Regions from separate parts of the Homo sapiens genome. Here regions 1, 3 and 4 are each reported to be linked to region 2. Evidence: microRNA targets listed by miRTarBase, many of them from high-throughput screens and not tested one by one. Region 2 holds a microRNA gene; each other region holds the end of a gene's coding sequence.

What was found. Region 2 holds the annotated microRNA hsa-miR-520a-3p (AAAGUGCUUCCCUUUGGACUGU, at 1,970-1,991, opposite strand). A microRNA usually pairs through its seed, bases 2 to 8, with sites in the 3' UTR of a target mRNA and lowers its output. Matches are read on the target gene's strand: a 7mer-m8 pairs with bases 2 to 8, a 7mer-A1 pairs with bases 2 to 7 and ends in A, and an 8mer does both.
Region 1: the mRNA of FOXJ2 is a reported target of hsa-miR-520a-3p. Seed matches in the 3' UTR shown: 7mer-m8 at 1,173-1,179 and 7mer-A1 at 1,096-1,102.
Region 3: miRTarBase lists ABCG8 as a target of hsa-miR-520a-3p. Seed matches in the 3' UTR shown: 7mer-m8 at 1,919-1,925.
Region 4: the mRNA of ZNF174 is a reported target of hsa-miR-520a-3p. The part of its 3' UTR that is shown has no 7-base or 8-base seed match.

What each region holds. Positions count from the first base shown.
Region 1 is chr12:8,052,651-8,055,781 of GRCh38, reverse strand. FOXJ2 (forkhead box J2) reads right to left here. Exons shown (of 11, transcript NM_018416.3): 11 at 265-3,020. The coding sequence ends at 2,932. Among named protein-coding and RNA genes, the nearest start is that of C3AR1, 12 kb to the left of the region's middle.
Region 2 is chr19:53,689,793-53,692,923 of GRCh38, reverse strand. MIR520A (microRNA 520a) reads right to left here and starts at 2,043; the gene lies at 1,959-2,043. All of the region lies in intron 2 of LOC107985342 (a long non-coding RNA gene), which reads right to left.
Region 3 is chr2:43,877,609-43,880,739 of GRCh38, forward strand. ABCG8 (ATP binding cassette subfamily G member 8) reads left to right here. Exons shown (of 13, transcript NM_022437.3): 12 at 1-80; 13 at 168-3,131. The coding sequence ends at 305. Among named protein-coding and RNA genes, the nearest start is that of ABCG8, 40 kb to the left of the region's middle.
Region 4 is chr16:3,408,288-3,411,418 of GRCh38, reverse strand. ZNF174 (zinc finger protein 174) reads right to left here. Exons shown (of 3, transcript NM_003450.3): 3 at 2,055-3,098. The coding sequence ends at 2,500. Among named protein-coding and RNA genes, the nearest start is that of ZNF174, 8.6 kb to the right of the region's middle.

The DNA of each region.
Region 1 (3,131 bases), not on the chromosome of region 2:
GGGCCTACTCCATATACCAACCTACAAGGGGTGACTGACTCTCCCGCAATATGTCATCATACTTGATAGCATTTGAAAAGAGGCACGTTAAGGACGTGCCTTTGATTCTTCTTTCCCACCAAGGTCACAAAACGTGTCAGGGTCAACTAATTCAACCCAGTGGTGGAAGGTGGAAGAGGAATAAAGACGAACTGAGACTAAATTCTTTCACGTTTCTCTTTTCCTTCCCTGGCCAAAAGAAACTTGAGACCACTACCAGTAAGATAAAACTGTAAACATTCTTTTTTTTTTTTTATTAAGAAAGCATGCAAAAAAACAATGACAACAACTTGTGAGACCATATACCCCCTTCCCAGGATGCAGCAATGCAAAGCATTATGGGTGGTGGCACAAAGGACTCACCAAACCAGAAACATGAGGAGCAGGGACTGAGGAGAGAAAGGTTGGGATGGGTGGATCTATACCAAATAATTACTCCTTTTGTCCCTCTCCTCCACTTTCTCTCTTATTTCCTCTTATAGGCAGTGAGCTTCTGCAGTTTTGCACACATCACCCAATACAACAATAATGACTACACTTTGTGTCCAGCAATGCTAGACCAACAAGAAAAAGTAGTATTCTTTTCATTTCATGAAGGGGAGGGGAAACTGAGGCCCAAAGGGAGTCAGGTTTGCCCTGTGCCACGTAGCAAGACTGGGCTTGGTGGAAGGGAGCTGGAATCTCAGGAGGCCTAATGGCCAATCTCCAGTCCCAGACCCAAACTTCAGCTACCCTGGCTGCACGCCAGAATTCTTCATGAGACTAGTTTGCAGAAGACACAGATGAACAAGGGGCATTTGCATGTATGATCCTACCCTTGCAAATCCTGTATGGATCTGAACAGGAAAAGGGTTTAGAAAAGAGAAGTGATCATTTACAAATGGGGAATATTGAGGAGAACTGATGGGAAGTTTTGTATAGGACACACCCTGACTGGAAGGAATAAGGAAGGAAAAGATGCCTAAAATAGGGACACTGGGCAAAGGCATTTTGCCACCCTCTAAGAGAAATTCTCCTTTCCCCAATGGGAAATATTATGTCATACTTCAACCCCACTAAGTGCCCTCCAACATCATGGGAGATTCAAGCCACTCGCACCCCCATTTCTTTCTTAGAAAGGCTTCAAAGAAATAAAGTGCTCTTTAGTTAACTGCCCTATCTTGCCCCTTTACTTCAGCCTCACTGGACTTCTTCAATGAACTCTCATATATAACCCCCTTCCAAAAAAAGGAAAGGGGTGGATGAAAGAAAAAAGCAGGAGAGCGGAACGCCAAACCTCTTGGAAATTATGGGTAAATAAAATAATATGCATGAAAAGCAGAAATCACAAAGAAAGTGGCCTTGTCTATTCCATACATTTTGTCCCACAGCTTTTCAGCAAGTGAAATAAGGACAGAAGTAAAATTGTTCTTCCCTCTCGTAACTAAAATTCAACAATCAACATTAAATATACACTGAGTACTTTGCAACAGTAAGTCATGGCCACCCCTTGTAAAAGAGATGAGTTAGCTCCATACCTTTTTCTGGGGGTCCCCCTTGGCCCTCACTGAACTCTTGCCTCTAGATTATTTACTCTCCTCCACCAATCTCCTTCACCCCTCAAAGCCTACTTGCAAAAGCTTCAGCCAGATGATCTGGATTCCAAGAGAAGCATCTGCCTATATATTTAAAGAACTAAAATATTCCCTATCCATTTCTTTGCCAGCTCTTTTTTCCTCTCCCCATCCTCCTACCACCAACACTAAAGGTTTGGCTCTGCTATGAGAGGTGGGAATGAGATTCCCATCATGTCTCAGGGCACGACGAAACTCAGAGTGATAATGGGTTACTTTTTCTTTCTTGAGAATCCCAGAAAATGAGGGAAGAAAAAAGATGGGTGGAAGATTTGGGCAAACAATTAAAGGAGGACAAACTAATATTTGCTGAATGGGAAAAAGGGATGGGAAGATCATTCGTAAATGCAAATAAGAGCCACAATTAATTTTCAGAGAAAATTATGTTTAAAAAGCCAAAATAGTTAAGTTGGAATCATCTCCAAGAAGCTAAAACCATGCTGAATAGTTGTCCTCATGCCCTACCATAGAAGCAGAGTTTGGGCTAAAACCAATCCTATCTTCTTAGAGAACAGGCTCAAAACAAGCCAATGGACACTGATGTAACATGGCAGTGTATACTCAGTTTCACACTGACTTATATTCCATCCCTTCCAATGGTCTCCAATTCCACTAGGATTTTATTGTCACCCTCCTGCACCACCATCATCACTTTCACCCTTGATAGGAAATACAGACTGGCAGAAGTAAGGATTGAAGGTATAAAGGGACAAGGAAGACCTCAGAGGACAGAATTAGCACCATTTTAAAACCTCCAAATTCTTGGCTGCCAAGTAATGTTTCAGACCCTTTCTACTTGGTAATGTGGCCTCTCCAGTCCTGGCCTGAAACTGATGGGAACAAAAAACAATTTAGGGCCAAAAGGTGGGATTAGCATTGAGTTTCTCCAAGAGAAAGGTAAACTGGAGTCTAAAACCTTTCTCTGTAGCTATCATGGCTTCATCTTCCAGCCTGATGATTTTAAATTAGCAAAAGGTGGACATGATCCATGATGTAGGGACAGGAGACTATGGACAGTATATAACCAATAATAATAATAATAATATAAGAATAATAATAAAAGAACTAGGAAAAAACAGGAAGGAAGAGAGAAGAATGAGGCAGGAAAGAGAGGGTTATCTTCGGCAGCATCTTGCAGTGGCTTCTCTGACAGAGAAAGAACAAAAAGAGGATATATGTCTATATACAGACGGGGGGAAGGGACGGGCTGGGGTTGCTCTTTCCCCACTGCCAGATTTCACCACGCGGCCCTGGGCTGATGTCCACACTCTGTGATGCACTAAGTGATCAAGTCCCAGTCGAAGTCATCAGGGATCTCCTCATTGGCACCAGGAGGTGGCACTGATGGCCGAGGGACCATATGGTGTGCTGTTAGAAAGAAAGAAAGAGAGTAAAAGGAGAGTGGATGGGAAGCTGTTCCCTCAATTTACAAGGACAGTGCTCAGCCCCAGATAACACCACGAAGAAGGCCTTGTGAGG
Region 2 (3,131 bases):
GAGGTCCCCTTCAATTCTACGTGAACCCACGTGAGGTTCTATAAACCAGTGCCCGAATAATTTCTACGTAGGAAAAGTTGTTGATAGCCGGGCGTGTTGGCTCACACCTGTATTCACAGCACTTTGTGAGGCTGAGGCAGGTGGACCAACTGAGGTCAGGAGTTCCAGACCAACCTGGCCAACATGGCAAAACCCTGTCTCTATTAAAAATACAAAAATTAGCCGGGCGTGGTGGTGCACGGTTGTAGTCCTAGCGACACGTGAGGCTGAGGCAAGAGAATCGCTTGAACCCGGGAGGCAGTGGTTGCAGTGAGCTGAGATCACACCATTGCACTCCAGCCTGGGTGACAGAGCGAGACTCTGTCTCAAAAAAAAATAATAATAATAAAATAAATAAATAAATAAATAAATAAATAAAAGGTGTTGAGGACTGGAAGAACATGCATCGCTCACTATGGCAACAAGAAGAGCTGCTGTGCATTCCACCTGTTACGAGGGAGCCCCTTCTAGGGTCCTCAAGATTTTTGTGAAAACAACTGGTTTTGTTGCATGCTACATTTATCACTGTGACTGAGATTCATCTTGTCTACAACAGTTTCTTATATTAGCCACAGCTAATATAAGACACATTTGACATCTTAGCAAGTAACTGGCATTTAGATGCAAGGTTTAAGCCCATTGGAATGGTACCTTGGAATCGTTACCCAAAGAAAATAGGATAAACATGGCAGCTACAGTCAAAGAACTCACTGGGGTTGGCATTAGTGGGTGAGGGTTGAATCAACTACACCCTTCCTGCAGAGAAAGCAGGTCTATTCCGAGAAATGATGGCAAGATGTTGGGGAAAAACAAATTTCAGTGTTACGGACAAGCAGATTACACTAAAAAGACACGAGTGAACAGGAACAAAAAGAAATTGTATCAATACGGACACCCACTGGGGATTACAGAATAGACTGGATGGACTTGGAGGATTACCCACTCTCTTAATGAAGGAACCATGGTTTGGATTGATTATACTAAATTGATGGGAGGCCATTGTATGACATGACCAACCCAAATGAAATCTGTGGGACCAGGTGCTATGTAATCTGTTTTTAAAGAAATGGGATCTTGCTATGTTGGCCCAGGCTGGAGTGCAGTGGCTATTCAAAGGTGGGATCTGTGCACGGTATAGCCTTAAAATCAAAGCACCCTCCCGCCCCGGCCCCTGCAGTAACTGGGACTGTGTGCCCCATGATGCCTGGCCAAGTCAACTATCTTTGAAATGGGTCATCAGGACAAGGTGGCTCACACCTGTAGGATCGCTTGAGCTCAGGAGTTGAGACCGTCCTGAGCAACAGAGACCCCATCTCTACCAAAAATTAAAAGCTGAACCAAGTGTTGTGTCACGCCCCATGTAATCCCAACTACTTGGGAGGCTGACTCAGGAAGACCACTTGAGGCCGGACACAGTGGCTCACGCCTGTAATACCAGCACTTTGGGAAGCCAGGGAGGCAAATCACTTGAAGTCAGGAGTTGAGAACAGCCCAGCAAACATGGTGTAACCCCATCTCTGCTAAAAATACAAAAATTAGCATGACATGGTGGTGGGCGCCTGTAATCCCAGCTACATGGGAGGCTGAGGTGGCAGAACTGCTGGAACCTGGGAGATGGAGGTTGCAGTGAGTGGAGATTGTCCTACTGCACTCCAGCCTGGGTCACAGAGCCAGATTCCATCTCTAAATGAATGAATGAATAAATAAATAAATAAATAAATAAATAAATAAATAAATAAATAGAGGGTCTCTTGGGCCCAGGAGAGCTAGGTTGGAACTGCCACTGCACTCCAGCCTGGGCAACAGAGACCCTGTCTTGGAGAAAAACAAAATCAGAACCCCAACATCATCCGAGTCTGATGATGAGCGTGCTCTGCAAATGTATTACCAAGATCAGCATCAACTTCAACGCTGCTTTACTCAAACCGAAACAGTCCAAAGGGAAGCACTTTCTTTTCTCTCAGACAACAGAAAGTACTTCCCTCTGGAGGGTCACAGCCTGAGATCTTCTTGCTCCAGCACTCTGGGTTTATTGTTGGAATTTTCCTTGACCAGGTTTAAATGGACACAAAAATAAAGATGCATTTTTCCTGGCCCTGTTTGCATGTTTTCTGGAATCCAGAATATAAACCCCCTAAAAGGACCATCTCCAGTTCCTTCTTTCAAAGGCTCAGCAGGTTAGCCTTGTTCATCAAGGGGCAATCCTCCTGAGTTTTGCCCCCAAAGAGAAAAAGCAATGCCTACTACTCATACCTTATCTTTAACCAAGAGAATCGAACTGAATTTCTAGAGAACAGCAATGGATTTTGAGCCAAGTGTTCACTTGAGTTCCAGTATAGGCACATGTAGTACCCATGGGGGCATCCAAAATGGAATCTAAGATGTTGAAGAATGTACATTGTCGCACACACAAACATCCTCCAGGAGAGACCACAGGCTACGCTGTAAAAGCTCCTCAATAAAAAAATACACAAGTACCTGTTGGGTGCGGTGGCTCACATCTCTAACCCCAGCACTTCAGGACGCCGAAGTGAGAGGATCACTTGAGCTCAAGAGTTCCAGACAAGCCTGGGCAACATGGTGAAGCTTCATCTGTACAAAAAATACAAAAGTGAGCCAGGTGTGGTGGTGCATACCTGTAGACACTAATTCAGGAGGCTGCGGTGGCAGGTGGAGGTTGCAGTGAGCCAACATTGCACCACTGCACTCCAGCCTCGGTGATATAGTCAGGCTGTGTCTTGTAAAAACTAGAAACACATACACACACACACACACACACACACACACACACAAAGACACACACTCAAAGTGATAGTCTCCTGCCTCACCCTCCGGAGTAGCTGAGACTACAGGCGTGCGCCACCAGCCCTGGCTAATTTTTTGTATTTTTAGCAGAGACATGGTTTCACCATGTTGGCCAGTCTGGTCTCGCCCTCCTGATCTCAGGTTATCCACCCGCCTCGGCCTCCCAAACTGCTGGGATTACAGGCGTGATCCACCGCACCTGGCCATACATCATATATTTTTGAGACCCTGTCTCAAAAGAAAGAAAGTTCCATATACTGTATGCTCACAGAAAGAATAATTCCTAC
Region 3 (3,131 bases), not on the chromosome of region 2:
GGCTGATGAAGATTCAGTTCAGCAGAAGAACTTATAAAATGCCTCTCGGGAACCTCACCATCGCGGTCTCAGGAGATAAAGTAAGCGGGGAAGGCCTCGGGTTCTAAATTATTGGACGTCCGGCTTTCCATCCTCCTCATGAGCCCACTGCATGTCTGTGTCTCCAGATCCTCAGTGTCATGGAGCTGGACTCGTACCCTCTCTACGCCATCTACCTCATCGTCATTGGCCTCAGCGGTGGCTTCATGGTCCTGTACTACGTGTCCTTAAGGTTCATCAAACAGAAACCAAGTCAAGACTGGTGATTCACGCCAGACGTCTGCCCGCTGGTGGGGGACCTGAGCAGACCCTTCAACTGCACTCCCTCCTCAGGAGCCCCTTCCTGGGGACAGTGAGGACAATGACCCTACAGATGCTCAGCTACATCCGGCCCAGGGTGCTGCAGTGGCACAGACCAGCCACAGGATGGCAGTAGAATAAAGACAGTCGAAAGGGATTTCTGCTCACTGGCAGGAGACTGCGATGACTGGGAGAAAACCTGCACTCGGTGGCACCTACAACGTTGCTAATTTATTTCCTTTTGATATGCATTTATATAGGCAACTCGATATAGGATGGGAGCAAACTAGGAATGAATTGGGTAGCTAGACTGTGCAGGAATTGTTGGAACCTGGAGGGAACAATAACAGTAGCTAGCAGATTTGGCTTCATCTTCCAGGGGCCCCACACTCCGTGGTGAGCCACCATCAATACAGAAAGTGACCTAAGATGTACCAGCAAGATGCCATCCCTTCTTTTTGTGTGGGGTCATGGGCTCCAAAAGCCAACGTGAACAATTAAAAATGTATTGAGCATCTACTCTGTAGCAGGTCCTGTGAAAACACTTTAGGTGGACAATCCCTTGAGGTAAGTGGTATCCCATTTTATAGGTGTGAAAACTGAAGCAAAAATTCATTTTCCTAAGGGCACATGGATACTTTGTGGTGGAGTCATATGGGGATCAGAAAAGCCTTTGAGGCCTTTGGAGTTAGAGGGCAGAAGGCAAGGCCTGAGCCGCTGTAAGCCTTAGGAGTTTAGGAAGGCTCCAGAAGACAAATGGGGTCTGTAGAGGCTGTTAACTCAGCCAGGCTTCTTAGAGTTGCATTTCACTAACTGATATGGTTTGGCTCTGCGTCCTCACCCAAATCTCACCTTGAATTGTAATAATCCCCAAGTGTCAAGGGCGGGACCAGATGGAGATAATTGAATCATAGGGGTGGTTTCTCTGATGCTGTTCTCCTGAGAGTGAGTGAGTTCTGATGAGATCCGACGGTTTTATAAGGGGCTTCCCTCTTCGCTCGGCTCTCATTCTCTCTCCCGCTACCCTGTGAAGAGGAGCCTTCCACCACGACTGCAAGTTTCCTGAGGCTGCCCCAGCCGTGCTGAACTGTGAGTCAGTTAAACCTCTTTTCTTTATAAATTACCCAGTCTTGGGTATTTCTTCATAGCAGTGTGAGAGCAGATGAATACACTGGCCCTGCCTGGGTTTCAGAACCAGCCTTGAACCTTTCACAGTGGCCAGAGGATGGGGAGGCAGAGGCCCAGGTTGCACACTTCTTGCCTGAGTGTTGGGGACTATCTGACCCAAAACAGGTGCACAGAGGGCAGGAGAGGATGTTCCCAAAGGAAAATTAGAGTTTAGAATCAAAAGAAGGGGAAGGTGCGTGTTTGGGAGGTAAATAGCAAATACTCTTCATAGGTTCACTAGAGTCTTGCTACTCCAAGTACGATCCCTGGGCCAGCAGAATGGGCACAGCTGGAGCTGATTGGATAGGTCCCATGAGCCTCAGGCCCCACCCAGGCTCAATGAGTCAGAGTCTGCGTCTTAAGAAGACCCCCTGGTGATCTGTGCACATTCAAGCATGCTGCCGTTTTCCAAAGCACTTGCAACACTCAGGATGCTTGCACGGTCATGTTGCCACCATCCAACCTGCAGACCCCATTCTTGAGATTGACTGGGAGTTCCTATCATGTCCTCCATAGCAAGGGGATCTAGACCAGAATCAAGCCTTGGATCTAGTTCTCAAGTCTCTTTTGTCTCTTTCAGTTTAGGAACAGTTTGTCAACTTTCCTTCACTTTTGTGACCTTGATACTTGAGTTTGAAGGCTGTCTCTCAATTTGTGTTCTGCCCAGTGCATCCTATCAGAAGGCATGTGATTTCAACTTCTCCCATACCAACAACGTTCACTTTGATCACTTGATTAAAGGGGTGTCTGCTAGGCTTCTCCACAGCCAAGTTACTATTTTCCCTCCCTTTATAATTAATAAGCATTTTGTAAGTGGGTACTTTGAAACTATGTAAATTGTAAACTTTCCATTTATGCATTTTAAAATTTTGATTGATGTAAACTTGTGAATTCCCATTGTATCCTTACAACCCTTTATTATTGTGATTAATTCTGATGCTCAGCTTGTCCCTGATTTGGCCAGTGGGAACCCCGTCGAGCTGGCTTCTGCATCCTTTTGATATGTCCTCATCATCCTTTGAGGGCTGAAACAACCAAGAGTTTCAGGCTCATTTTTTGTTTTGTTTTTTTTTTTTTGAGACAGAATCTCATTCTGTGGCCCAGGCTGGAGTGCAATGGCGCGATCTCGGCTCACTGCAACCTCTGCCTCCCAGGTTCAAGCGATTGCCTTGCCTCAGCCTCCCAAGTAGTTGGGATTAACAGTGCCCACCACCACACCTGGCTAATTTTTGTATTTTTAGTAAAGACAGTGTTTCACCATATTGGCCAGACTGGTTGTGAACTCTAGGCCTCAAGTGATCTGCCTGCTTCGGCCTCCCAAAGTGTTGGGATTACAGGTGTGACCCACCGCACCTGGTGTCACAGGTTCATCTTGTATTTTCCCATCTCAGCCCTGGAATCCGATGTTTCTCCAGAGAATCTGGGTTCCTCTTAGTGGAAAATGGTATTTAGAAGCCAAGGTTTTGGTGATAAGTATGCTCTTTGCTTGTGGAACATCTCTGCTCCCAGGCTCTCTCAGTGAACAGAGTTAGGGAGTGTGTGTGTGTGTGCGCGCGCGCGCGCGCATGTGCATACATATACACCTAAGTACACATGAGTTTACTCTGATAACATCCATTTCCAAT
Region 4 (3,131 bases), not on the chromosome of region 2:
CAACTGTTCACATACTGAACATCTGTTTCTCTTGGCTGGTTATTGACAAAGTCCAGAAGCTAAAGTTATGGAAAAACAATGTTCTTGTTTTGAAAGAGCTGTTATAGTGCATGGTAGTTTCCCAGCCTTGGTGATACTGATTTTTTGAGCCAGGTCATTGCTGTGGGGGCTGGCTGTCCCGGCACTGCAGGCGGTTCAGTAGAACCCACTAGAGGCCAGCAACAAGCCTCCCTTCCCCAGTCCTAACAACCAAAAGTGTCTTTGGACTTTGTCCGACAACCCCTGGGGGGCTCCCAGTTTGAGCACCCCTGGTGTATGGGGTCTAGCAGAGAGGCTGGACCCCAATTTTCACAGAAGTCTGCCTAGGGCTCCTCAGGGAAGGCTTTGAGAGAAGGAAACTCTTGTGAGAGGGAGGAGGCAGGAGGGAGTGGGGAGCATCAGGAAATAAAGGCAAAGGAAACAATTGTGTGCAAAGGCCCCAAAGAGGACTCATAGGTGTGCATATGTCCCTCGGCAGTTAGAAGGGACAAGAGATTCCTTGGGGGGTACAGAAGAGCTCAGCCCACAGCCCTGAGGTGACTGGTAGTTACTTGATGATACTGATGTTTTGTGAAGAATGCTACCTTGCTGAGCGTACATCTGTAATCCCAGCACTTTGGGAGTCTAAAGTGAGAGGATGGCTTGAGCCCAGGAGTTCGAGGATAGACTGGGCAACACAGTGAGACTCTGTCTCTACAAAAAAATAGAAAAATTAGCCAGGCATGGTGGTGCATTCCTGTAGTCCCAACTGCTCGGGAGGCTGAGGAGGGAGGATTGCTTGAGCCCAGAAGATCGAAGCTATAGTGAGGCATGATCACGCCAGTGCACTCTAGCCTGGGCAACAGAGTGAGACCCTGTCTCAAAAAAAAAAAATGCTACTTGCTTCTTATTTTCTGCATCAGGAATGCACTAATCTGCCAAAAGTTTTCTCTAAACTGAGCAATGAGCTAGGAATTGTATACTGATTTGCATTTTAATTTCCGCTTTGAGAAAACGAGGAGGTGGCATTAGATGATCGCTCAGGCTTATTTCCAGGGCTCATTTTATATAAATATATTTTGTCACTTAAAAATACGCTGTTGAGGTACAATTTACATATCATAAAATTAGCCCATTTCAATTATTTTTAGTAAATTTACTGAGTTGTGCAACCATCACTGTAATCCAGTCTTAGAATATTTTCATTACCCCAATCCTTTTGCTATTTTTTTTTTTTCCTGAGACAGAGTCTCACTCTGTCATCCAGGCTAGAGTGGAGTGGTGCAATCATAGCTCACTGCAGCCTCTAACTCCTGGGCTCAAACAATACTTTTGCCTCAGCCTCCAAGAGTAGCTAGCTGGGATTATAGGCATGCACCATCATGCCTGGCTAATTTTTGTATTTTTTGTAGAGACAGGATTTAGCTACATTGCCCAGGCTGGTCTCAAACTCCTGGGCTCGATCACCCTGCCTCAGCCTCTCAAAGTGCTAGGATTACATGTGTGAGCCACTGTACCCCCATTGCATTTTGTTATTCTTAAAGCTAATGGGCTAAGTGAGAAAGGAGAGTGGGAAGAATTCCCTTTTATATCTCCTTAGTACTCTTTGTCCACTACTTGCTTCTCACTGTAGCTTTTCCTTATGTGTTAGGCTGGGGTTGCAGCAACTGTGTAGATTTTTTTTTTCTCAATCAAAGGTGCTTTGAGAACAGGCACGGTGGTTCACACTTGCAATCCCAGCACTTTGGGATGCCAAGGCAGGAGCATTGCTTGAGCCCAGGAGTTCGAGACCAGCCTGGGCAACATAGCGAGACCCTGTCTCAAAAAATAAAAAGGAAAAAAAAAAGGTGCTTTGATACAAAAAAGATCCCTCAAATGTAATTTTCTTTTCTTTTTGTAAAAGCACCATCTAACTACTTGGAAACTCTTCTCGCACAAACGTGCATATTCTCATTTAATTCATCCTTTGCTATAAACAGCTAGTAATTACAGAAAGAATATGAGGGATCTATTTTCCAATTAACTTTGCCTTGAAATTCTGGTAGATCACTCATCTTTATTAAAGAAGTGTGCTCATGATAAAAAATTGTCTGGTATGACAGCAAATGCATAACTATATATATAGAATTTATCCCTTAACATATTTTAGAGGATAAAGCAACAGAGGGACGATTTAACAGTAAGCGGGCCACCTGCAGGATTGTCCTGATTCTCTCTCAGTAGTTACTCCTTGCTCTCTGCAGAGACTTAAGTTCTCTTTGCCCCAGTGCCCAGACCTGCCTTCTCTTCACCCTGTCATCATGCACGGTTGGGCCCTGGTTGGCCTTTTCTGGGCCTCCTCACAGCAGAATGTGCATCATCATTCCTCAAGGGCCTCGTGCTTTCCTTGTAAGTCACACAGTTTTTGTGATTTACATGCAAGTAAGGGGGAGGAGAAACACAAACACCTTCCGTGTGAATCTAAAGCATGGAGTGCTCCTTTTAGTCCCCATGGTGAAGTCGGTGATGCTGGTGAAGGTTTGAGCTCTGGCGAAAGCTTTTCCCACACTGGCCACACTGGTATGGCTTCTCTCCAGTGTGGATCCTCTGGTGCAGCTTCAGGGTTGACTGCCGCCCAAAGCAGTTTCCACACTCTCCGCACGTGTAGGGTCTCTCTCCTGTGTGGACTCTCTTGTGTCTCTTCAGCTCTGAATTCCACGTGAAGCTTTTCCCACAGTCATCACATTTGTAGGGTTTCTTTGCTGAGCGGGTGGGCTGGTGACCAAGATGTTGCAAACGGTTGCTCAGACTCCGTTTACCTCCTTTGCTTTTCTTTAGCTCTCTCAGTGGGTGGCTTTTTAGGGGGCTGCTGATGTATTCCACCCTGCAATGTCTCTGGTAGTGAGCAAATGGCTTTTGAGCATTTGGGGAGCTGACCTGCCTCCGTGACAACCGAGGTTCACTCATATTTGCCCCTCTTGGTTCAGGATTCTGCAGACCATTCCCTTTGGATCTGCCAGCTGACACTGCACATGGCTTTGCTCCTTTAGCCCCTTCCTGTTGTGGATTTTCCTTGTTGTCACTTCTCATTCTGGGGGCCTCTATAATTAGAAAGAAAATGCTTCATTTTCTGC